Linked DNA regions of Homo sapiens. The main gene of each other region encodes a partner of the protein of the gene in region 2 in a complex. Each region holds a gene or a part of one and is shown on either strand. Other genes may lie near its edges. A codon is read from its position in the direction of its gene.

The links.
Region 1: the proteins of ELANE (region 2) and SLPI are in contact, whole or in part, in a crystal structure (PDB 2Z7F), measured with the Homo sapiens proteins. Residues at the interface, in NP_001963.1 of Homo sapiens: His53 (codon at 9,841), Phe54 (codon at 9,844), Cys55 (codon at 9,847), His70 (codon at 9,892), Cys71 (codon at 9,895), Asn74 (codon at 9,904), Val75 (codon at 9,907), Pro111 (codon at 10,244), Val112 (codon at 10,247), Asn113 (codon at 10,250), Leu114 (codon at 10,253), Leu158, Ile165, Leu180, Arg182, Val197, Cys198, Phe199, Gly200, Asp201, Ser202, Ala216, Ser217, Phe218, Val219, Arg220, Gly221; in NP_003055.1 of Homo sapiens: Tyr93 (codon at 3,686), Gly94 (codon at 3,683), Gln95 (codon at 3,680), Cys96 (codon at 3,677), Leu97 (codon at 3,674), Met98 (codon at 3,671), Leu99 (codon at 3,668), Pro102 (codon at 3,659), Phe104 (codon at 3,653), Met121 (codon at 3,602), Cys122 (codon at 3,599).

The regions. Positions count from the first base shown.
Region 1 is NC_000020.11:45,249,434-45,261,076, forward strand, and holds SLPI (antileukoproteinase precursor), read right to left. Parts: upstream 5,132-11,643; 5' UTR 5,111-5,131; coding exon 5,026-5,110; intron 4,301-5,025; coding exon 4,142-4,300; intron 3,719-4,141; coding exon 3,569-3,718; intron 2,987-3,568; coding exon 2,982-2,986; 3' UTR 2,806-2,981; downstream 1-2,805.
Region 2 is NC_000019.10:843,125-855,309, forward strand, and holds the start of ELANE (neutrophil elastase preproprotein), read left to right. Parts: upstream 1-9,178; 5' UTR 9,179-9,204; coding exon 9,205-9,271; intron 9,272-9,751; coding exon 9,752-9,908; intron 9,909-10,137; coding exon 10,138-10,279; intron 10,280-12,185. Other genes in the region: PRTN3 (myeloblastin precursor), read left to right, coding at 337-502, 769-910, 3,023-3,253, 4,675-4,845. UniProt on the Homo sapiens protein: Serine protease that modifies the functions of natural killer cells, monocytes and granulocytes. Inhibits C5a-dependent neutrophil enzyme release and chemotaxis. Promotes cleavage of GSDMB, thereby inhibiting pyroptosis. Promotes blood coagulation.

The DNA.
Region 1 (11,643 bases), on a different chromosome or scaffold from region 2:
GTCAAAAGTTAGCCATAGGGTACAAAACAAGTCTCAAGAATTTTAACAAATCAAAATCATACCAAGTATTTTATCTGACCATAATGGAATAAAACTAGAAAGCAATAACAATAGGAACATTTAAAAGTATACAAATACATGGAAATTAAACAACATGCACCTGAATGATAATGGGTGAAGAAAGAAATTAAGAATACAATTTCAAAATTCCTTGAAATAATCAAAAATATAAACACAACATACCAAAACCTATGAGACCCAGCAAAAGCAGTATTAAGAGGCGAGTTTATAGCAATAAATGTCTACATTAAAAAACTAGAAAGGTTTCAAATAAACAACCTAATGATGCATCTCAAGGAACTGGAAAAGCACAAACAAGCCAAACCCAAAATTAGTAGAAAGAAAGAAATAATAAAGATCAGAGCAGAAATACACAAGAGAGAGACTAAAAATTACAAAAGATCAACAAAACAAAAAGTTGGATTTCTGAAAAGATACACAAAACTGGCAAACCATAAACTAGACCACCTAGGGAAAAAAAGAGAGAAGACTCAAATAAAATCAGAAATGAAAAAGCAGACATTACCACTGGTGACACAGAAATACAAAGGATTCTTAGATACTATTATGAGCAACTATAAGCTAACAAATTGGAAAACCTAGAGGAAACTGATAAATTCTTAGAAATGTATAACCTATAAAGATTGAACCAGAAAAAAATTTAGAAACCATGAGCAGTTCAATAATGAGTAATGAGACTGAATCAGTAATAAAAAGCTTCCTAACAACAACAACAAAATCCCAGGAATGGAAGACTTCACTGCTGAGTTCTACCAAACTTTTAAAGAAGAGTTAACATCAGTTCTTCTTTAAACTATTCCAAAAAATTAAGGAGGAGAAAGGAGAAAATTCTCCCAAACTCATTCTATGAGTCCAACATTACCCTGATACCAAAACTAAATAAGGGCACGTGGACACACACATGCACACACACACCAAAAAACTACAGGCCAATATTCCTTATGAACATAGATACAAAAATCCTCAATAAAATACTAGCAAACTGAACCCAACAAGACATTAAAAAGATAATACACTATAATCAAGTAGGATTTATTCCAGGGATGAAGAATGTGTTTCAACATATATAAATCATTTATGAATGTTTTAAATAAATGTGATACATCACATCAACAGAATGAAGGACAAAAAGTCCATATGATTATCTCAATAGATGCAGAAAAATCATTTGGTAAAATTCAATATCCCTTCATGATAAGGACTCTCAATAAAGTAGGTATAGAAGAAAAGTATCTCAACCCAATAAAGGCCATATAGACAAACCCACAGCTAACATCATACTGAACTGGAACAAGAAAAGCATGCCAACTCTCACTGCTCTTATTCAACTTAATATTAGAAGTCATAGAGCAATTAGGAAAGAGAAAGAAATAAAAGCCTTTCAAATTGGAAAAGAAGTCTAATTATCCCTCTTTGCAGATAACATAATTATATCTACAGAAGAACCTTTAGACTCTGCAAATAAACTCTTAGAACCAATCAATGAATTCAGTAAATATGCAGGATACAGCATCAACATACAAAAATCAGTAGCATTTCTATACAGCCCTACAGGGCTTAGTGGGTGTTCTCCCTGTGTGCAGAGACAAGAGATTGTAAAAGACACAAGACCAAGAGATAAAGAGAAAGCAGCTGGGCCCAGGGGACCACTACCATCAAGATGCAGAGACTGGTAGTGGTGGCTGTGTCTTTAGCTTTGCAAGCTTTTTAGTTTGAGGTAGTCCCACTTGTCTATTTTTGCTTTTTTTGCCTGTCAGCCCTGCTTTCTTTTCCCTGTCACAGGTGTCACTCCCCAGGACACTCCCCAGCAAACCCCCTGTTCACAAACATTTGCCTCTGGGACTGTTTTCCAGAAAACCTGACCTAAGGAAGATTATAAAAGTTTATCATTATCCAAAAATTGGAGAAGAAGAGTAGAAAAAAAATAGTACTGTCACTTTTTCAGCATGTGTTCTGTATGTAACCCAGGAGTTTATCTCATTTCAACGCTAGGTCTCCTCCCCCTGCAAGGTGCTACTTGGGGCACACTCCTAGTAGCGTATTTGCCCGAGCCTAGGTTCCTCAGTCTGGAATAACCCTTGCTGGAGGTGAGAAAAGTATGTAGCAGAATGGTCCAGTGAGGTTTGGGGCATTCCAAGTCTTTCAAAATAATCGAGAGTGGGCACTGACGTAACATGGTTAGTCTTTTTGAGGACTCCATTTGCTGTGAGTTGCAGATAATCTTAATTTTTCTGAGTGTCCAGAGAGTGTTGGTTGGATTAGACAACAGACAGACCTACAACATATCAAGTGTGAAAACCAATATATATATCGTAACACATACAGAGGTGAACACAGGAATCTGCCCCAACAGTTCTGTATGGCTTTAGATGAAAACCCCCTGGATTAAAATAGCTTAACTGTTGGCAGGATCTCTTATGCATAAACTCGTCTCAGGAAAGTTTTTCACCTGCAGTTGACAATCCTGCCAGAGGCAGTAAAATTGAGGTTTCTGATTCTTCATGTTATTGTACATCCCTAATCCCATTGAAATTTAGGAGATAAAATCACTTGTCCCAAATCACAGAGTCAGCACTTTCACACTCATGATATAAATTCAAGTTCCCCCAGTCCCTAAGCCTCTTCCTCCCACTACGTATTCATAGGAAGGAGGCCTCATATCTAGATCTTCCCTCACAGCTTCCCACCCCACTCATACCCCCAACGAATCACAGAAGCAGGATGTGCAAAGAGAAATAGGCTCGTTTATTTATTCATTGATCAACTGGCACTTCTTGAAAGCCTGCTGTGTGCCAAGCCTTTCCCCAAAGGAGGATATCAGTGGTGGAGCCAAGTCTCAGGGTGGAAAGGACCTGGACCACACAGAGCAGGACTCCAGAGCCTCCTCCATATGGCAGGAATCAAGCTGTGAGAGAAAATCAGATAAGAGCTTCAGCATAGAAACCAGCCAAATCATATCCACATCCTTCCTCCTGCCCAAGGATCCTTCTGAGATAGAGAAAATAGCAAGATAGCGCTATAGTTGAGAGAGACTTAGTGTCAGGAGACAAGTCTCATTTTCACCGTAAAACTCTAAACTCAAAGCATTGAACTAGATAATCCTCAAACTCCACTGATCCTTTGTGATTTCACCTCAGAAAACATGATGGAAACAACCTGAATAATAAATTCTTAGTGCACATAGTGCTTTGCAGAGCACTTTCAATCTCATTATGTACATTTTACCGATAAAGAAACTGAGACTCAGAAAGACACTTGCCCAGGACCCCCACCCAGAGACACTAGAATAGAATCAAAGCCACAGGCGATCCTATGGAAATCCTGGCCCTGAGACCTGGAGAACAGTTCTCTTGAAGGACAAGGGAGTCAGACAGAGGCTGTGCTTGGAGTAGGGTTCAGGAGTCCCCCTGCCCATATGCCTGGGCCTCCAGAGGGTTGAGGCTGAGAGGGCTGGAGGGAGCTCAGTGTGCCCTCATCCCCTGCTTACCTTTCACAGGGGAAACGCAGGATTTCCCACACATGCCCATGCAACACTTCAAGTCACGCTTGCACTGGCCATCCATCTCACAGAAATTGGGGGGGTTAAGCATCAAACATTGGCCATAAGTCACTGGGCACTTCCCAGGCTTCCTCCTTGCTGGGTGAGAGTGAGGCTACCGGTCAGAGGCCTTGTACTTTATACAACCCCTCCCATCCCCACTTTTTAGAGTGAGCCCCTGCTCCAGCTTCAGCAGGGGGGATCATCCCCTCCCCACCTCTATCACCACCACCTTCTCCCTAAGGCGGCCCCCAAACATAGCACCTGGCTCTCCTAGAACTTCAGGCCCCCCATTGATGCAGGTGGCCAGCCACCCAGTGCTGACTAGGTGGGAGGCTTCCAACTACCTGGCTATCTAAATGCCCGCTGCTTCACCAGCTGCTGGCTACCTTCCTGCTTAGGGCAGTGTGACTCACTGACGGATTGACAAGGAGGCCTGGCAGGACCCATCACCCAGTTCCATCCCTCTAATGCTGTGTCCCCAGGCTCACTCCTCTCTACCCAGTTCCCCGACCTGCTTACTTGGGTTTGGGGTGTCAACAGGATCCAGGCATTTGATGCCACAAGTGTCAGGACAACATCTCTTCTTCCCTGGACACTGCCAGTCACTCTGGCACTCAGGTTTCTTGTATCTAAGGCACTGGGCAGATTTCTTAGGAGGACAGACTCCAGCTTTGAAGGCTTTTGAAGAGAAAGTCAAGAGGTCAGGAGGAGGCTGGGTACTGAGGACCCATCATGCCTCCTGAACAAAGCACCACTTTTGAGGGGGAGAGACCCTTACCTCAGTAGCTGTCCACAAAGCCCAAAGGGTCATGCCTGCCTGATCTCCAGGTGTATTGATGGGCTTGATTAAATTAGACAAATGGACAGGGGACGTTTCACACCCAAGAAAAGGGCAGCAGGCTTCTAGTCAAGACCTCCCACCCAAGAGCAAAACAAGGCTACACAAAGGCAGAGAGGAAGGCTGGGAGTGATGGAGATGGAGAGAGGTAAACAAAGATAAATAGAACCAGTGTGAGAGAAGTTGAGAGCTAAAGCCCAAGGCAGAAGCACAGAGACAAAATAGCAGAAGCAAAGACACAAGGAAGCAGAGTCAGAAACTAATGATTTGAGAGTCGCAGACAGGTGAAGAAGAAGGCGGAGTATGAGAGAGAGAGAGAGAGAGAGAGAGAGAGAGAGAGAGTGGGACCTGGGCTGACAGCATGGCTGCATAGAGGAAGCATTTCCAGAAGCTCAAACTGTCACACAAACCTTGGAGCTCAGCCAGACATGTATTCCACCCTCAGGGAGGTCTCCCGAAACTAAGCTGAGGGATCAGAGCCTACAGAAGGGGACACACCCACACCACAAGGAGACCCCACCTCTGACCCTGCAGCCCAGATTAGACCAGAGTGACTCCAACTTACACTTTCCAGAGCCTTCCACAGCCCAAGGTGCCAGAGTTCCCAGGGCAAGCAGCACCAGGAAGGGGAAGAGGCCGCTGGACTTCATGGTGAAGGCAGGAGTGACTCTGATGGCCAATGCCAAACCTCACTATTTATTCTTTCACCAGTGGGTGTGGCCCCACCAGAATTCTTTCGGCCTCTCCCAGCTACTATTGCATAAGCAGGAAACGTAGCCAGAGACCAGAAATCCTGACACCAAGGAGATTGTTTATCTTTCCTATGCCAGGTAAGGCTATGAGGCCAACACAGCAACTATCAGAAAAGAAAGGGAAGAGATTGGCCTGGGAAGTTGGTTGATTAAAGAGGCCATCTCAGTGTCCATCTGAGCCCTAAACATCACAAGATCCCAGGCCATTAGCCTTATAGGTGGAGAGAGGGAAGAAGTGGTCAATTGCAAAGGTGCTACCCGGACCTGGAACTAAAACCAGACACAGACTCCCTGCTGAGACTTTGTGCAATACATTCTATTCTCACATTGCTAATTCTGATTCTCACATTACTGGACTCTCAGGCATTGTGAAACTCTGCTGATTACTCAATGCAGTTTCTTTCTCAAAAGTTCAGCTCGTTCAACCAACTGATACTTAGTTCCCTGAAATATTTACACCGTTATATCCCCAGTGCCTGTTCTGTGCCTGACACAGGAAAAGCACTCACAAATGAAAGCTGAAGAAGAGCTCCGCTCTCCACAAATCTCTCTGGAGCTCAGTTGTCTCAGCTGTGAAATGAAATGATACTAACAAGTCAGCCCTTCTCAGAGGGTTATGAAATTAAGGGCATGAAGGGACTCTGAATGAAAAGAACAAATGAATAGTATCCCTTCCCACTAAAGAGAATTGAAATGAATCTGAGATAAAGGGGGAAAGCAGCTCATCAGTCACTGTAATCTACATTTAGCTGTGAGATAATTTGAGATCTTAGAGGATTGCTTCCTAAAATTCCCCAAAATCCCTTACAGATCTCACATGACAGCAAAAAATTAAACCCATTCTATTTGCTACCCAGTCTGCATAGGTTGCTTCTAATTATAAAGAGAGCGACCATTATCTCTAAAATTCAGCCCATAGCTGAGTGTAGGGTCGCACACTTGCTGTCTCAGCTGCCCAGGAGGCTGAGGTGTATGGATTCCTTGAGAGTAGGAGTTTGAGACCAGCCCTGGCCACATATTGAGACCCCATCTCTACAAAAAAATGTAAAAAATTAGCCAGGCATGATGACGTACGTATGCCTGTAGTCCCAGCTACTTGGGAGGCTGAGCCAGGAGGATCGCTTTAGCCCAGGAGTTTGAGGCTGCAGTGAGCCATGATTGTGCCACTGCATTCCAGCTTGGGGGACAGAGCGATACCCTGTCTTAAAAAAATAAAATAAAATAAAATTCAACCAAAGCTCATCTAGCTACAAACTCCAAGCTCTTGACTCATTATCTTCATGCTTGGAATTCTCCCATTCATTCCTAAGGTGAAGGTTTGTGGAACTTTCCACAGACATGAAAGACCCACTCATTATCAAGTAGCGATGGCCCCACATGAAGTATTTAAGTATTCCACAACCAAACAGGCAACTGGCAGCAGATCCCTTTATACAAAAGTCACTCCATGGTTTGAATTTTGGTGGATCAGAAGACTTGGACATAATCAATCATCAGTCAAATTTTGGTGGAAAAAGAAAAGGAAGAAAATTAATATGCACAAGGTAACTACTATGAGCCAGGTGCATTCACTCTTAGTTGGAGTACTTAGTAGGGTAGGTAAGAGAGAAATGGAGGCTATGATTTCCACCAATGGGTAATGACACTCTCAGGTCAAGATTTTTGTTCTCACTTCCACCACCCAGGGGATAATTTGATTTCTCTCACAGAGTTCCTGTTCTCTCTCTCTCTCTCTCTCTCTGTTTGTTCCTATTTTCCTCAGTGCCACACTCAAGAAATTATCTGGAGTTTTCTAAATATTTATTTCTTAAAGAATGAAAAGGGGCTGGGCACGGTGGCTTATGCCTGTAATCCTAGCACTTTGGGAAACCAAGGTGGGCGGATCACTTGAGGTCAGGAGTTCAAGAGCAGCCTGGCCAACATGGTGAAACCCTATCTCCACTAAAAATACAAAAATTAGCCAGGCAGTGTGGCACACACCTGTAATCCCAGCTACTCAGGAGGCTGAGGCAGGAGAATCACTTGAACCCTGGAGGTAGAGGTTGCAGTGAGCTGAGATTGTACCATTGCATTCTAGCCTAGGCAACAAACTGAGACTCCGTCTCAAAAAAAAAAAAAATTAAAAGGAAAATGCTACAGCTTAAGTTTTTTTTAAATCTGTGATTGACTGATTGCTCAATCTGTGATTGACTGATTAGAGCCAGCTCCTTTCTCATCAGAAAAGAGCCCTGTGCCCAATTAGCAATGTCTTCCATGGGTGTCATAAGAAGATAATAGTATATAATCATTATTATCTTTGACATAATTGGTTCTAAATGTTTACATCATAGAATGTTAAGACTAAAAAGAGGACTTCAAGGGTTTTCTAGATCAGCAAACTACAGTCCTTGGACCAAATCCACCTAGTTACCTGTTTTCATAAAGTTTTATTGGCACATAGCCACACATCCATTAATTTATGTATTGTCTAAGGCTATCTTTCCACTACAATGGCAACAGGGACCTAAAATATTTACTGCACAGCCTAAAATACTTATCGTCTGGTCCTTTACAGAAAATGCTAACCCCTAGACCAAACCCACAGCTTGCATAAAAGAGACTGAATCCCTTAGAAGAAGATCCAGGCCCAAAGCTGCATAGCGGATTAACGACACACACAAGATTGAGCTTTTCTAAAACAGGTTACTCACATGCTGATCCCCAGAACCTGTCTGGTGGAGGACACTTCCACTCCTAACCAAATCTTAACCTGAGACTGACTCATTCAATCTATCTCAAGGCTGGGAGTGGTGGCTCACTCCTGTGATCCCAGAACTTTGGGAGACTGAGGTGGGTGGATCACTTGAGGTCAGGAGTTTGAGACCAGCCTGGCCAACATGGTGAAATCCCATCTCTACTAAAAATACAAAAATCAGCCGGGCATGGTGGTGTGTGCCTGTAATACTCAGGAGGCTGAAGCAGGAGAATCACTTCAACCTGGGAGGCAGAGTTGCAGTTAGCTGAGGTCATGCCACTGGGCTACAAGAGTGACACTCTGTCTCAAAAAAAAAAATCTATTTCACACACCCTTTATTGCCTTCTACCTAAATCCTATAGATTCCTTCATTCATTTATACAAACCATTCACACAAAAGTTGTTTAACATTTCTTACCACATGTCAGGTATTGCACTAGGCCTAGGGCTACAGAAAAGAGCACGCCCACGGAGTCGACACCACATGGTTGTTAAGAACCTGAACTTCAAAGTCAGACTTACAGGTTGGAAGCAAATCACTGAACCTCTTTGAACTTCAGCTACCTCCACTGAAAAATGAGAGTGTTGCTGCCTCTGGAGTCGTACAGTTGTTGTGAGGAGTATTTGGAAAGCACTCAGCAAACTGTCTGGTCCCCTCAGTACATTACACATTGTTTTTATTACCGGCGTGTCCCTGCACACATTAAGCGCACAGGGAGCTGTCAGTCTTTAACTAAATAGCTTAGTCCTTGGGTCTGGACCCATCTGGCTCTGTCCCATTAAATGTTTGACAAAACATGGTCTTATTTCTTGACAAAATAGACCTGATTGGGCCTATTGGTAGGTAGGTAGACAGACAGATAGACAGATCTTAACTGACAGATAGATATAGATAGATAGATAGATATAGATAGATAGATAGATAGATAGATAGATAGATAGCCAGATAATCAACTATTGGTTCTGTTTCTCTGGAAAACCCTGGCTGATGGAACCTGCTTGCCTCTGCACTTCCCAATGCCATTTATTAAAGTTGGTTACATCATTACTTGTGAGGCTGCATCATCCTTTATGCCTTCTCTGAATACTGGCTTCCAATTACTGTCTCAAATGTTGTTAGTGTGGCCGCTTGTCCCTGACTACCAGGGTGCTGGTGACAGGGGGACCCTGGCAGCTGGTGGGTCCTGCACACACCAAGTAGCGGGACAGGGACCCTGCGCACCTCTGGGAGTCTGCACTCTCCCTGTGAGTATCCACATACTTGTGGAGGAGCAACAGTAAATAATTTTTTTAACACCATGGCAGATCTAGAGAGAAACTGCCAAAGAAAGTTAAAAAATTAATTTTAGTACCGTTAACACTTTTTTTCCTGCTTTTGAACAAGCAGCTCCACATTTTCACTTTGCATTGAGTCTTGTAAATTATGTAGCCAGCCCTGGAGGGGCTCAGGGTTGAAGTGAGAGGAGCATCTCATTTGCACAAGAAATGTCTCTGCCTAATCCATTATGGCTCAACACTGACCCGAGAGAGCATAGGTCAATCAGAGGAAAAAAAAAAAGACATCAACTGAAAAGCCCCTTTGGAGTTGCACAGAGATGGCCTGGAAAGCCCTGAGGAAGAGACAGGAGCAGCCACAGGCTCCTGCCAGGAGCCATCCAAGGTGGTAGGATGACTGCCCTAGATTCTAGCAATGGGGGAAGGAGTACAGAGTGAGAAGCACCCCCTTGGACTAGAACCCATGCAGTTCTCAGTCCAAGCTGGGATTCTCTGCCCCATGGCACCATTGATCCTGGCTGGCTTCAGGCACTCCAGGGGAACATAGACAATTTTGAGGAAGACGCCCCAAGGCACAGAGCGACCTGAAGTGTGAGGTGCAGGGAAGGAGCCCCGTTGCTCAGGTCTAAGGAAGAATGTGTTTCGGGTCGCCCCATTCTGATAGCAGATGCCAGCTTCACCCTTAACTAAAAGTCACTGTGTTCTTACCTAAAATTCACTATGTTTCCAAGTCTCAAAACCAAAAAACAACACAGAACAAAAAACTCTTTCAGAATCTGGCAGACAACCAGGTTTTCACAGCTCATTCCTGTGTGAATAAGGCAGCAACTACCTTTCCCTGGGCCTCAGTTCCTCTACCTGTCCCAAGACGGTAACTGTGACTCTAAGAAACAGCTTCATCCTGCTTCCTCTGAGGCCATCAGCTCTCCCCAAGAGCCTCAGCCAATTTTCTGACTTTCATAGTTGCCTTTATAACTTAGCTTAAAATATTGTCTTAAACAAAATACATAAAACGTCAATAATGACCAAATGGGAATGGAGACACAGAGCCAGGGAGTATGGAGATGTAGTAGGTGTGGTGGGGAGAGTATTGGGGAAAAAAAAACCCCGAGCTGAGACAGGAAGAGTAGATGAGAAAGAGATGACTGCAAGGGAGGTGGGGTCATTTAAATCACCTCTGGAAGTGTCATCCACAGGTGGTGGACATGGCAACTGGATCTCCCTAGACCTTCCAGAGAAACAGATGGCTTAGCCACTCCTTATCATTTTCCCACCCAAGAAAGTTTGAATTCTGCAATGTTTGTACTTCCTCCCCTACTGCTCATCATAGTCCTAATAAAATCTGGAAATATGAACTGTCCTTTTAGGCCCACAAGTGAATGGGTGAAGGGCAGTAAAGCAGAATCTGGGCAAGGGTGAAAAACATCCACCATCAAAGAATTGGCAGGAGAAATTAACCAACAACGGTGGATCTCAGGTGTCTTCATACTTATTACCATGCAAGAGATGGTTGGTGTACAGATCAGGGCTCTGCACTTTATTCCTTCAAAAACTGCATGTCTGTCTCCCTAGAGGAAGGGATCCAGTTAACCTAAGGTTAAAGAAACAAAGTCTGTGGTATGTCATGAGGAAATGCTTTAGGGACCTGGTAAAACAAAAAGAAAAACAGTGCTCGGCATTAAGAAACTGCCATCATGACTACCCATGGAAGAAAACCGGGAATAGAAAAACTGGATTATTAAACTGTGGAACAGAGCTATAAGCAGCTTGGGAAAAGATGTCCCCAAATCACTAGAATCCATCTCCTTTGGTTTAGCATGTTTTGTTACATTTAAGCGTCACACAAAACTTGGTAGATACTAATGTCAAGTCAGTTTACAGATGAGAAAAAGTGAGTCTCAGAGAAACGTTCCTGTTGCAGATCAGGAGATGGTAGGGTCTTAGATGGACATGGCAGACGATGCCTGGTTGATCATTACTATGGGAGAGTTTGGTGTCTAAGCCTGGGGTCAGTGGAGAGCACCACTATGAGGACACCTCTGTGGCCCAAACAGAGCAGAGTGCCAGAAAGACCATGAAAGACTCACACTTGATAGCATCACTTCTGGCCTCTGGGACCCTGTGGTCAGCTAGAGAGGCATGACGATGATACTGGACTCAGGACACTGGGCTGGAATCCCAGCTCTGTCCAATTTGATGTAGAACCTTCCTTTCTCTGGGCCTCAGTTTCCCTATTTGTAAGATCAGTGCATTGGAACAGATGCTCTTTAGAGGCCCCAAGTCTTAGATTCTAGCTGGGTTTTTGCCTTATAGAGGACTCTCAGGACCCAGAGAGCCAACTTTCCTGAATAAAAAGCCTAGGAATAGACACCATGCATGACCCCGAACTTCACAGTGGACCAAGCACTTTTATATCCCATTT
Region 2 (12,185 bases):
AGGCTGGTCTTGAACTCCTGAGCTCAAGGGAGCCTCCTGCCTCGGCCTCCCAAAGTGTTGGGATTACAGGCGTGAGCCACTGCACCCAGCCACCTGGTCTGCGTCTTAAAAGCCTTCCTGACTCTCAGGACTGAAAGCTGCCACCAGGGCGCCTTTGGAAATCGTCGTAATTATAACCCCCCCGGCCTGGGCGCTGAGTCCTTCCCACCAGCCAGCAGGCACTGACCGGGTTGCAGATCGGGAGACGGAGGCTCGGAGAGGCCCAGGGGCTGCTCTGCCATCCCCCCTTTCCCTGCAGCCTGGGGGCTCCCTGACGCCTGGACTCCCCCCCTGCAGGTGCTGCCCGAGCTGCGGAGATCGTGGGCGGGCACGAGGCGCAGCCACACTCCCGGCCCTACATGGCCTCCCTGCAGATGCGGGGGAACCCGGGCAGCCACTTCTGCGGAGGCACCTTGATCCACCCCAGCTTCGTGCTGACGGCCGCGCACTGCCTGCGGGACATGTGAGCGGCCGCCTCCACACCCCTGTCCGCCCGCCCCGCCCTCTTCCTCCAGCCCTGGCCCGGCCACTGTCCCTCTGCCCGGGGAGGACCCAGCTAAGCCCCGTCTGCAGACCCCAGGCCCCGCGCGCGTGGGCAGTTCTGGGGGGAGGCCCGGGGCAGGGTCGCCGAGGGAGGGGTCTGGGGCTGCACCGCGGCCTCGGGAAGGGCCGGCTGTGGGCGGCGGCGAGTGTCCAGGGCGCCGAGGAGTGACCACCCCACCCCCGCAGACCCCAGCGCCTGGTGAACGTGGTGCTCGGAGCCCACAACGTGCGGACGCAGGAGCCCACCCAGCAGCACTTCTCGGTGGCTCAGGTGTTTCTGAACAACTACGACGCGGAGAACAAACTGAACGACGTTCTCCTCATCCAGGTGGGCGGGCAGGGCCGCGAGGGCTCGGAGGGGCACGGCCAGAGGGCTCCGGGACCCCCATTCCTGCAGCCAGCATTCATTGAGCACCCACTGTATACCGGGCCACGACCGAGGCCGCTGCAGCCTGGGTCCAGTGGCACTGGCCGGGGGAGACCGCTCCTTGGACACCAGGCCACTCCTCCTCCCCGCCTCTCCCCCGCCCGCGCCTCTCCCCCGCCCGCGCCTCTCCCCTGCGCGCCTCTCCCCCGCCCGCGCCTCTCCCCCGCCCGCGCCTCTCCCCCGCCCGCGCCTCTCCCTTGCCCGCCCCTCTCCCCTGCCCGCGCCTCTCCCCTGCATGCCTCTCCCTTGCCCGCCCCTCTCCCCTGCCCGCGCCTCTCCCCTGCGCGCCTCTCCCCTGCCCGCGCCTCTCCCCCGGCCGCTCCTCTCCCCCGCCCGCGCCTCTCCCCCGCCCGCGCCTCTCCCCTGCGCGCCTCTCCCCTGCCTGCCCCTCTCCCCTGCCTGCGCCTCCGCCCGGTGTGCTGTTCCCCCAGAAAGCCAGGTGCCCTCGCCTCCTCCGGCGCCTCCCCTGACCTCACTGGAAGTGGCGAGGACAGCCACAGCCCTCCCCGATTCACTGTTCTCCACTGAACCGCGTGCTCCTCTCATTCATGGGGCCCTCCTAGCCTCCTCCCACCCAGAAAGATCAGCTCCCCAGGGCAGAGGATTTTTGTCTGTGTTGTTCGTTATTGGACTCATGTGGCTTAGAACGGGACTGGGCATACAGGTGGTGCTCAGTAAGTGCTTGGGGCTGGGCACTGTGGCTCACGCCTGTACTCCCAGTACTTTGGGAGGCTGGGATGGGAGGATCACTTGAGGCCAGGAGTTTGGGAGCAGCCTGACCAACCTAGTGAGACCCCATCTCTATAAAAGACATTTTTTTTTTTTTTTTTTTTAGACAGAGTCTCACTCAGTCATCCAGGCTGGAGTGCAGTGGTGCAATCTCGGCTCACTGCCACCTCTGCCTTCCAGGTTCAAGTAATTCTCCTGCCTCAGCCTCCTGAGTAGCTGGGATTACAGGCATGCACCAACACGCTTGGCTAATTTTTGTATTTTTAGTAGAGACGGTGTTTTGCCACGTTGGCCAGGCTGGTCTCGAACTCCTGACCTCAAGTGATCTGCTCTCCTCAGCCTCCCAAAGTGCTGGGATTATAGGAGAGAGCCACCGCGTCCAGCCTACAAAAGAAAAATTTAAAAATCAACCGGGCATGGTAGCACACGCCAAGCCACTCATGAGCTGAGATGGGAGGATCACTTGAGCCCAGGAGGTTGAGGCTGCAGTGAGCTGTGATCATGCCACCACACTCCAGCCTCGGCGACAGAGCAAGACCCCATCTCAAAAAAAAAGTGCTTTGAAGATGAATGAATGGGCCAGGGGCGGTGGCTGTAATCCCAGCACTTTGGGAGGCCGAGGCGGGCGGATCGCCTGAGGTCAGGAGTTTGAGACCAGCCTGATCGATATGGCAAACCCCGTGTCTACTAAAAATACAAAAATTAGCTGGGCGTGACGGCAGGTGTCTGTAGTCCCAGCTACTTGGGAGGCTGAGGCAGCAGAATTGCTTGAACCCAGGAGGCAGAGGTTGCAGTGAGCCGAGATTGTGCCACTGCACTCTAGCCTGGGCAACAAGAGCGAAACTCCATCTCAAAAAAAAAAAAAAGAAAAGAAAGAAAGAAAGAAAACATGAATGAATGGCCGGGCACTATGGCTCACACTTGTAATCCCAGCACTTTCGGAGGCTGAGGAAGGCAGATCACTTGAGGTTGGGAGTTTGAGACCAGGCTGGCCACCTCACCCAATGGGATGGCTCCGGGAGGTTCCAGTGAGCCGAGATCACGCCACTGCATTCCAGCCTGGGTGGCAGAGCAAGACTCCATCTCAAAAGAAAGAAAGAAGGAAAGAAAATGAATGAATACAATAGTGACAAATGGGACAAAGGGGGTCGTGGGGCCCAGGCGGAGGGAGCGGCATCCGCGGCGTTTTGAGGTGGTGGGTGTGGTGGGTGTGGTGGGAGGGCGGCCCGGGCGGCCACCGTGACCTGGAAGCAGCGTCTCACCGCCGCCTGCCTTCTGCCCCAGCTGAGCAGCCCAGCCAACCTCAGTGCCTCCGTCGCCACAGTCCAGCTGCCACAGCAGGACCAGCCAGTGCCCCACGGCACCCAGTGCCTGGCCATGGGCTGGGGCCGCGTGGGTGCCCACGACCCCCCAGCCCAGGTCCTGCAGGAGCTCAATGTCACCGTGGTCACCTTCTTCTGCCGGCCACATAACATTTGCACTTTCGTCCCTCGCCGCAAGGCCGGCATCTGCTTCGTAAGTAACCGTGCCCCCACCCCGGGCACCGGGCTGCCATGAGGGGAGGAGGGCGGCGGCCAGGGTTCCACGCCACCTCTTAGCTGTGTGGCTTCATGCTGTGCCTCAGTCTCCCCACCTGGAAGGTGGGCACACCCAACACCCAACGGGCAGGCTCAGCGGGGTGGGGGCGCTCACATTGCACCTGGCTGCTTGGGTGGGTCTGGGGGTTCCCTGCCCCCCACTCCCCTCTAGGACCACAGGAAGGTGTGGGAGACCCATCCGCCCTCACCGGCGGCCCCTTCCAGAATCCAGGACTCCAGGTATCCAGCGGGAGGCCCATAAATGCCCAGTTCCTACGAAAGACCTCAGCCCCTCCCTGCTCACACTTTTTGTTTGTTTTTGAGACGGAGTGTCGCTCTGTTGTCCAGGCTGGAGTGCAGTGGTGAGATCTCAGCTCACTGCAACCTCCACCTCCCAGGTTCAAGGTATTCTCCTGCCTCAGCCTCCTGAGTAACTAGGTGCACAGGTACCTGCCACCGTGCCTGGCTAATTTTTTTGGTATTTTTAGTAGAGATGAGGTTTCTCCATGTTGACCAGGCTGGTCTTGAACTCCTGGCATCAAGTGATGCCTGGCTGGTGCTCACACATTTTAAAGAAAATTCCAGGCCAGCAGTGGTGGCTCACGCCTGTAATCTCAGCACTTTGGGAGGCCAAAGCGGAAGGATCTTTTGAGTCCAGGAGTTCAAGACCAGCCTGGGCAACATAGCAGGGTGGCATCTCTACAAATAATTTAAATATTAGCTGGGCATGGTGATGTGAGCCTGTAGGCCCAGCTACTCAGGAGGCTAAGGCAGGAGGATCACTTGAGCCTGGGGAGTTCGAGGTTGCAGTGAGCTATGATTGTGCCACTGCACTCCAGCCTGGAGAACAGAGCGAGACCCTGTCTCGAGAGAAAGACAGCCAGCTACTCGGGAGGCCGAGGCAGGAGAATCACTTGAACCCGGGAGGCAGAGGTTGCAGTGAGCCGAGATCACGGCACTGCACTCCAGCCTGGGTGACAGAGCGAGACTCTGTCGCAAACAAAACAAAAACAAAACAAAACAAAACAAAAGGAGAAAGAAAGAAAGAGATAGAGAGAGAAAGAAAGAAGAAAGAAAGAAAAAGAGAGAAAGAAAGAAAGAAAGAAAGAAAAAGAAAGAGAGAGAGAGAGAGAGAGAGAGAGAAAGAAAGAAAGAAAGTTCCATATTGGAAGCATTTTATTCTGAAACAGCTGTGGCTACCCCAGCCCCCTTCCTGGCTGCCTGGGGCCAGCCCGGGTGACTGGCTGTCCCCATCCTCCCGGGAGACTCAGGTGGCCCCTGATGGGTGACTGGCCGTCCCCATCCTCCAGGGAGACTCAGGTGGCCCCTGATGGGTGACTGGCCGTCCCTGTCCTCCAGGGAGACTCAGGTGGCCCCCTGATCTGTGATGGCATCATCCAAGGAATAGACTCCTTCGTGATCTGGGGATGTGCCACCCGCCTTTTCCCTGACTTCTTCACGCGGGTAGCCCTCTACGTGGACTGGATCCGTTCCACGCTGCGCCGTGTGGAGGCCAAGGGCCGCCCCTGAACCGCCCCTCCCACAGCGCTGGCCGGGACCCCGAGCCTGGCTCCAAACCCTCGAGGCGGATCTTTGGACAGAAGCAGCTCTTCCCCGAACACTGTGGCGTCCGGGACGGCCCCACCCGTCCCCCCACACTCCCTCCCACGGGGCTCCGGGAGACAGGCCGGCCCTGCACCTCACCCCACCGTGACCTCAATAAACGTTGAAACTCCCCCTGGCTCCTGTCTGTCCTTCCCATATAGGGAGGGGAGGGGGAACTGCCCACCGTGACCTCAATAAACGTTGAAACTCCCCCTGGCTCCTGTCTGTCCTTCCCATATAGGGAGGGAACCAGGGAGAGGTCCCCTGGGTTCAAGTCCCCGAGCCCCAAACTCAGGATGGGGGGAGTCGGAGCGGGGGATGGGGGCCCAGGTTGCAGGGGGTCTCTCTCCTGGATGCTCGTGGCTGTGGGTTCTAACCCGGCCCCATCAGGGTGGCCCTGGGCAGGTTGTTATTCATCTCCGTGCCTCAGTTTCCTCATCTGGAAAATGGACTCGCCCCAGACGTTTCCTAGAACTGTCCCTGCTGGCTCAGGGACTCCTTGAGGAAGGGGATGGGGATGGGGAAGCAGCCTGGGGGGCTTCCTGGAGGAGGTGGCAGTGCCAGAGCTGCATATCAAGGTGTGAACAGAAACATCCGAAGGGCTGCCAGGCAGGGGGCACAGTCCAGGCAGAGACCTGAGGGCTAGAGGCCAGGGGACGGGGAGGAGGGCAGGCAGGGGAGGGATGTGGGTGCAGGGGAGGGGTAATGGGGTTGGAGCGCTATTTCTCGTAGGAGGGGTAGGCAGGGCAGGAGTTCCCTGGTAGAAGCATGAGCAATGAACTGGGTGGGGGGGTGGCCAGAGGGGAGGTCCGAGGCGGGGAAGAGGTGGGACTCACAGTCCAGCTCAAAGACGGGCAAGTGGCCACTAGAAGGAGGCATTAGCCACAGAGAGGGGACGACCTGCTCCAGGACACGTGTAGAGAAGAAATGAAGCTCATTGCTGGTGTTTTTTTTTTCTTTTTAATATTTTTTTGAGACAGAGTCTCGCTCTGTCACCCAGGCTGGAGTGCAGTGGTGTGATCTCGGCTCACTGCAAGCTCCGCCACCCGGGTTGAAGCGATTCTCCTGCCTCAGCCTCCGGAGTAGCTGGGACTACAGGCACAGACCACCACGCCCAGTTAATTTTTATATTTTTAGTACAGACAGGGTTTCACCACGTTGTCCAGGCTGGTCTCGAACTCCTGACCTCAGGTGGTCCACCCGCCTCAGCTTCCCAAAGTGCTGGGTTTACAGGCGTGAGCCTACTTACTTATTTACAGCTGGCCTACTTATTTATTTTTGAGACAGGGTCTCACTCTGTCGCCCAGTCTGTAGTGCAGTGGTGCAATCTTGGCTTACCGCAGCCTCAACCTCCTGGGCTCAAGTGATCCTCCCACCTCAGCCTCCCGAGTAGCTGGGACTACAGGTGCCACCACACCCAGCTATTTTCTTAGTTTTTGTAGAGACGGGGTCTGGCTGTGTTGCCCAGGTGGGTCCTCAGTGACTCTTTACATATGAACACCTCCAGGTCACTGTAATCTTAGCAATCTCCTGGCCTCCCAGAAGACCCCACGTCCCCCTCGGAGTCTACACCCGCTGTGACCATAACACCCCTACCTTCCCTGCCACAGTTAATGGTGAACCAGCTCTCAAAGCAACACTTTCTTTTTTTTTTTTTTTTTTTTTTTTTTTTTGAGACGGAGTCTCGCTCTGTCGCCCAGGCTGGAGTGCAGTGGCATGATCTCGGCTCACTGCAACCTCCGCCTCCTAGGTTCAAGCAATTCTCCTGCCTCAGTCTCCCGAGTAGCCGGGATTACAGGCAGGTACCACCACGCCAGGCTAATTTTGTATTTTTGGTAGAGACGGGGTTTGTCCATGTTGGTCAGGCTGGAATTCCCAACCTCAGGTGATACACCCGCCTCAGCCTCCCAAAGTGTTGGGATTACAGGCCTGAGCCACCGCGCCCGGCCAGACAACACTTTCTTAGCTAAGAACTTTATGAACGTGAATTTATTTCATCCTCTTGACAGGTTTATGTGATGGATCCTACGATTATAATTTTACAGAGGAGGAAACTGAGTCACGGAGAGTTTATTTCAGGGGCCTGAAGTTACACAGTGGCCAAATGGCCACACCAGAACCAGGATATGAACCCAGCGTCGGCACACTTAATAATGACTGCACGTGAGAATGTAGTATACAGCTGGTGCTCAATAAATGCAGCTGACGCCAAGTCTGATCTCCGTGCTGGAGGCCAAGCCCCTTCCAAAGATACGGCGTCCCCCACCCCTGAAATCCCCCCACCCCCGACTTGAAACAGGGCTGTGTAGACAGTAGGCGCTTACTAAGTGCACTGTGGTGATGTTAAGGCAGCAAGGTGGGAACCCTGCCAAAAGGGGAGGGGAGAAGGCAGGGTAGTGTGTGTCTGATTAAGCTGAGGACAGGGCAGACATGGACTGAGCGCCTGCTGTGTGCCAGGCTCTGGGAGGGCAGGGCCATTGTCTCCCTAACCCGAGAGCCATGGGGGTCCACTTGCCTGTGGTCACGTCAGGACTCCAGCCTGGCCCAGGCTCTGCGTGTCCCCGGGTGCCCTCGCCCCGCCTATTCCTGGAGACAGGCCCGTTGGTTCCCTTCCCCTCCCCTTGTCCTGGAGCCAGGAGGACGTTGGTTCTTGCGACAGCCTTGGCCCGGCCGTTGCAGCTGGAACATCGTGGGGGAGATGGGAAGAGGAACGGGGCCCGGAGCCCGGGGCTGGGTCCTGGGAATCCCTTTCCCGCAGCTGGGACTCCAGCTCCCCTGCCAGTTCCTCCAGGCGGAAGCCCTCAGGCTTGGTCCTCACTCCAGCCTCCCGGCCTGGACAGGAATTCTCTCTCCAGCAGCCCTGCCAGATGCCCGCCCAGCCCCTGCCTCAGGCGGGGAGGGCTTCAGGGAAGCTCACCAAGGCAGAAGGGCGGGAGAGATTGTCAGAGCCCCAGCTGGTGTCCAGGGACTGACCGTGAGCCTGGGTGAAAGTGAGTTCCCCGTTGGAGGCAACAGACGAGGAGAGGATGGAAGGCCTGGCCCCCAAGAATGAGCCCTGAGGTTCAGGGAGCGGCTGGAGTGAGCCGGCCCCAGATCTCCGTCCAGCTGCGGGTCCCAGAGGCCTGGGTTACACTCGCAGCTCCTGGGGGAGGCCCTTGACGTGCCTCAGTTCCCAAACAGGAACCCTGGGAAGGACCAGAGAAGTGCCTATTGCGCAGTGAGTGCCCGACACAGCTGCATGTGGCCGGTATCACAGGGCCCTGGGTAAACTGAGGCAGGCGACACAGCTGCATGTGGCCGGTATCACAGGGCCCTGGGTAAACTGAGGCAGGCGACACAGCTGCATGTGGCCGGTATCACAGGGCCCTGGGTAAACTGAGGCAGGCGACACAGCTGCATGTGGCCGTATCACAGGGCCCTGGGTAAACTGAGGCAGGTGACACAGCTGCATGTGGCCGGTATCACGGGGCCCTGGATAAACAGAGGCAGGCGACACAGCTGCATGTGGCCGGTATCACGGGGCCCTGGGTAAACTGAGGCAGGCGAGGCCACCCCCATCAAGTCCCTCAGGTCTAGGTTTGGCAGGTTTGGCAAAAACACAGCAACGCTCGGTTAAATCTGAATTTCGGGTAAGTATATCCTGGGCCTCATTTGGAAGAGACTTAGATTAAAAAAAAAACGTCGAGACCAGCCCGGCCAACACGGTGAAACCCCGTCTCTACTAAAAATACAAAAAATTAGCCAGGCGCAGTGGCTCACGCCTGTGATCCCAGCACTCTGGGAGGCTGAGGCAGGCGGATCACCCGAGGTCAGATGTTCAAGACCAGCCTGGCCGACAGGGCGAAACACTGTCTCTACTACAAATACAAAAATTAGCCGGGAGTGGTGGCAGGTGCCTGTAATCTCAGCTATTCAGGAGGCTGAGGCAGGAGAATCACTTGAACCTGGGAGGCGGAGGTTGCCGTGAGCCGGGATCACGCCACCGCACTCCAGCCTGGGCGATAGAGCAAGACTCTGTCTCCAAAAAAATAAATTAAAAAACCCACATTGATTATCTGACATTTGAATGCGATTGTGCATCCTGAATTTTGTCTGGAGGCCCCACCCGAGCCAATCCAGCGTCTTGTCCCCCTTCTCCCCCTTTTCATCAACGCCCTGTGCCAGGGGAGAGGAAGTGGAGGGCGCTGGCCGGCCGTGGGGCAATGCAACGGCCTCCCAGCACAGGGCTATAAGAGGAGCCGGGCGGGCACGGAGGGGCAGAGACCCCGGAGCCCCAGCCCCACCATGACCCTCGGCCGCCGACTCGCGTGTCTTTTCCTCGCCTGTGTCCTGCCGGCCTTGCTGCTGGGGGGTGAGTTTTTGAGTCCAACCTCCCGCTGCTCCCTCTGTCCCGGGTTCTGTTCCCACCTCTCCATAGAGGGCCCCACCAGTGTGGGTCCCTCATCCTCACAGGGGAGGTGCCAGCTGGGACAAGGAGACCAGAAGAGACTGAGGTTCTGAGCGGTGAAGCCACCACCAGGAGCCCAGAGTTGGGGTTTGAAAACCGGGGAGGGGGGGGGGGTCGCAGGTCGCCCTCTGGGTTCAAGTCCAGGTCTGTCTGTGCCTTGGAGGGGCACCGTGGGGAGGTCCCTTTGCCTCTCCGTGCCTCAGTTTCCTCATCTGAACAACAGGGGTGCGAACGGCCCCGATCCCGTGGGTTCCCGGTGGGGGATCCCGTGGGTTCCCGGTGGGGGATCCCGTGGGTTCCTGGTGGGGGATCCAGAGGCCCCGTGGCCGGGAGGGGACAGGCTCCTTGGCAGGCACTCAGCACCCGCACCCGGTGTGTCCCCAGGCACCGCGCTGGCCTCGGAGATTGTGGGGGGCCGGCGAGCGCGGCCCCACGCGTGGCCCTTCATGGTGTCCCTGCAGCTGCGCGGAGGCCACTTCTGCGGCGCCACCCTGATTGCGCCCAACTTCGTCATGTCGGCCGCGCACTGCGTGGCGAATGTGTGAGTAGCCGGGAGTGTGCGCGCCCGGCTCGGACCCCGCGTCCCGGTCTGTGAGGTGGGTGGGGGGAGGCCGGGGCCGGGGCTGCTGGCGGGGGGGGGTCCGTCCAGGGCCCGCGGGGCCCCTCGAGCACCTTCGCCCTCAGGCCCGTCGCCGGATGGGGACGACAAGGCGCGGCTGAGCCCCGACCCCCGGGGCCGCCCCTGAGCCCCGCCTCTCCCTCCCCGGCAGAAACGTCCGCGCGGTGCGGGTGGTCCTGGGAGCCCATAACCTCTCGCGGCGGGAGCCCACCCGGCAGGTGTTCGCCGTGCAGCGCATCTTCGAAAACGGCTACGACCCCGTAAACTTGCTCAACGACATCGTGATTCTCCAGGTGCCGCCGGGCGGGGCGGGGGGCGCAGGGGCGGAGGCCAGAGGCCTGGGGAGGGTGGAGGCTGCGACGGAGGGGCGCGTCGGGGCCGCTCGTGGGGACCTGGGGTGGCATCGTGGGCTGGGTGGTCCCCTCTCCGCGCCTCGGTCTGCACCTCTGTGAAACGGGAAAATACCCGCCATGGGCCGTTGAGGGGTTAAATGAGATCCTGCAGGGAGGCCCCGATCTGCTGTCAATCAACAAACTTACTGAGAAGGGAGGCCCCGATCTGTTGTCAATCAACAAACTTACTGAGAAGGGAGGCCCCGATCTGTTGTCAATCAACAAACTTACTGAGAAGGGAGGCCCCGATCTGCTGTCAATCAACAAACTTACTGAGAAGGGAGGCCCCGATCTGTTGTCAATCAACAAACTTACTGAGAAGGGAGGCCCCGATCTGCTGTCAATCAACAAACTTACTGAGAAGGGAGGCCCCGATCTGTTGTCAATCAACAAACTTACTGAGAAGGGAGGCCCCGATCTGCTGTCAATCAACAAACTTACTGAGAAGGGAGGCCCCGATCTGTTGTCAATCAACAAACTTACTGAGAAGGGAGGCCCCGATCTGCTGTCAATCAACAAACTTACTGAGATTCTTTGTGTCTCTCCATTCACCAGTCCTGTGGCCCAGGGCAGGGGCCGCCTCTGTCTTTGGGAAAAGGGGCAAAAGTCCCCACCTTTCCACCCCTGTCCGCGGCTTGCAGTTCTGGTTATTTCCTGGGCGCCGGGCCCCGTGGCTCAGGCCTGTCATCCCAGCACTTTGGGAGGCTGAGGCGGGTGGATCACGAGGTCAGGTGTTCGAGACCAGCCTGAGCAACATAGTGAAACCCCGTCTCTACTAAAATACAAAAAAAAAAAATTAGCCGAGTGTGGTTGTGGGTGCCTGTAATGCCAACTACTCAGGAGGCTGAGGAAGGAGAATCGCTTGAACCCCGGAGGCGGAGATTGCAGTGAGCTGAGATCACACCACTGCACTCCAGCCTGGGTCTCAAAAAAAAAAAAAAAGATTCCTCCCTGGGAAGGGTTAGAGGGAGAGTTTCCTTGTCACTAAGTTTTCTCATAGCTCTCACCCAGTGCAGTGGCGCGATCGCAGCTCACTACAGCCTCCATCTCCTGGGCTCAAGCCACCCTCTCAGCTTGGAATGGGGGGTAGCTGGAACCACAGGTGCCACCACGTGGGTCCACCACGTCTGGCTAATATATATATATACACACACACATACATATATTATAAATAATAAATATATATTTTATTTAAATAAAATATATAATATTTATAATTATTTTATAATTATAATAATATTTATATAATTATAAATATCATTTATAATTATAATATTTATTATTTTATAAAATAATAAATATAAAATATATAAAAATATTTTTATAAAATAATAAAAATATATATATACACACATATATATATATTTTTTGAGACAAGTCTCGCTCTGTCGCCCAGGCTGGAGCGCAGTGGCACAATCTCAGCTCACTGCAACCTCCGCCTCCCAGGTTCAAGCGATTCTCCTGCCTCAGCCTCCCAGGTAGCTGGGACTACAGGCGCCCGCCACCACGCCTGGCTAATTTTTGGTATTGTTAGTAGAGACGGGGTTTAACCATGTTAGCCAGGATGGTCTTGATCTCCTGACCTTTTGATTGGCCCACCTCAGCCTCCCAAAATGCTGGGATTATAGGCGTGAGCCACCGCACCTGGCAATTTTTTTTTATTATTTTTGTAGACATGGGGCTTTGCCACATTGCCCAGGCTGGTCTTGAATGCCTGGCCTCAAGTGATCCTCCTGCCTCGCCCTCCCAAAGTGCTGGGCTTACAAGCATGAGCCACCGCGCCCGGCTGTAGTTTTTTTGTTAACTG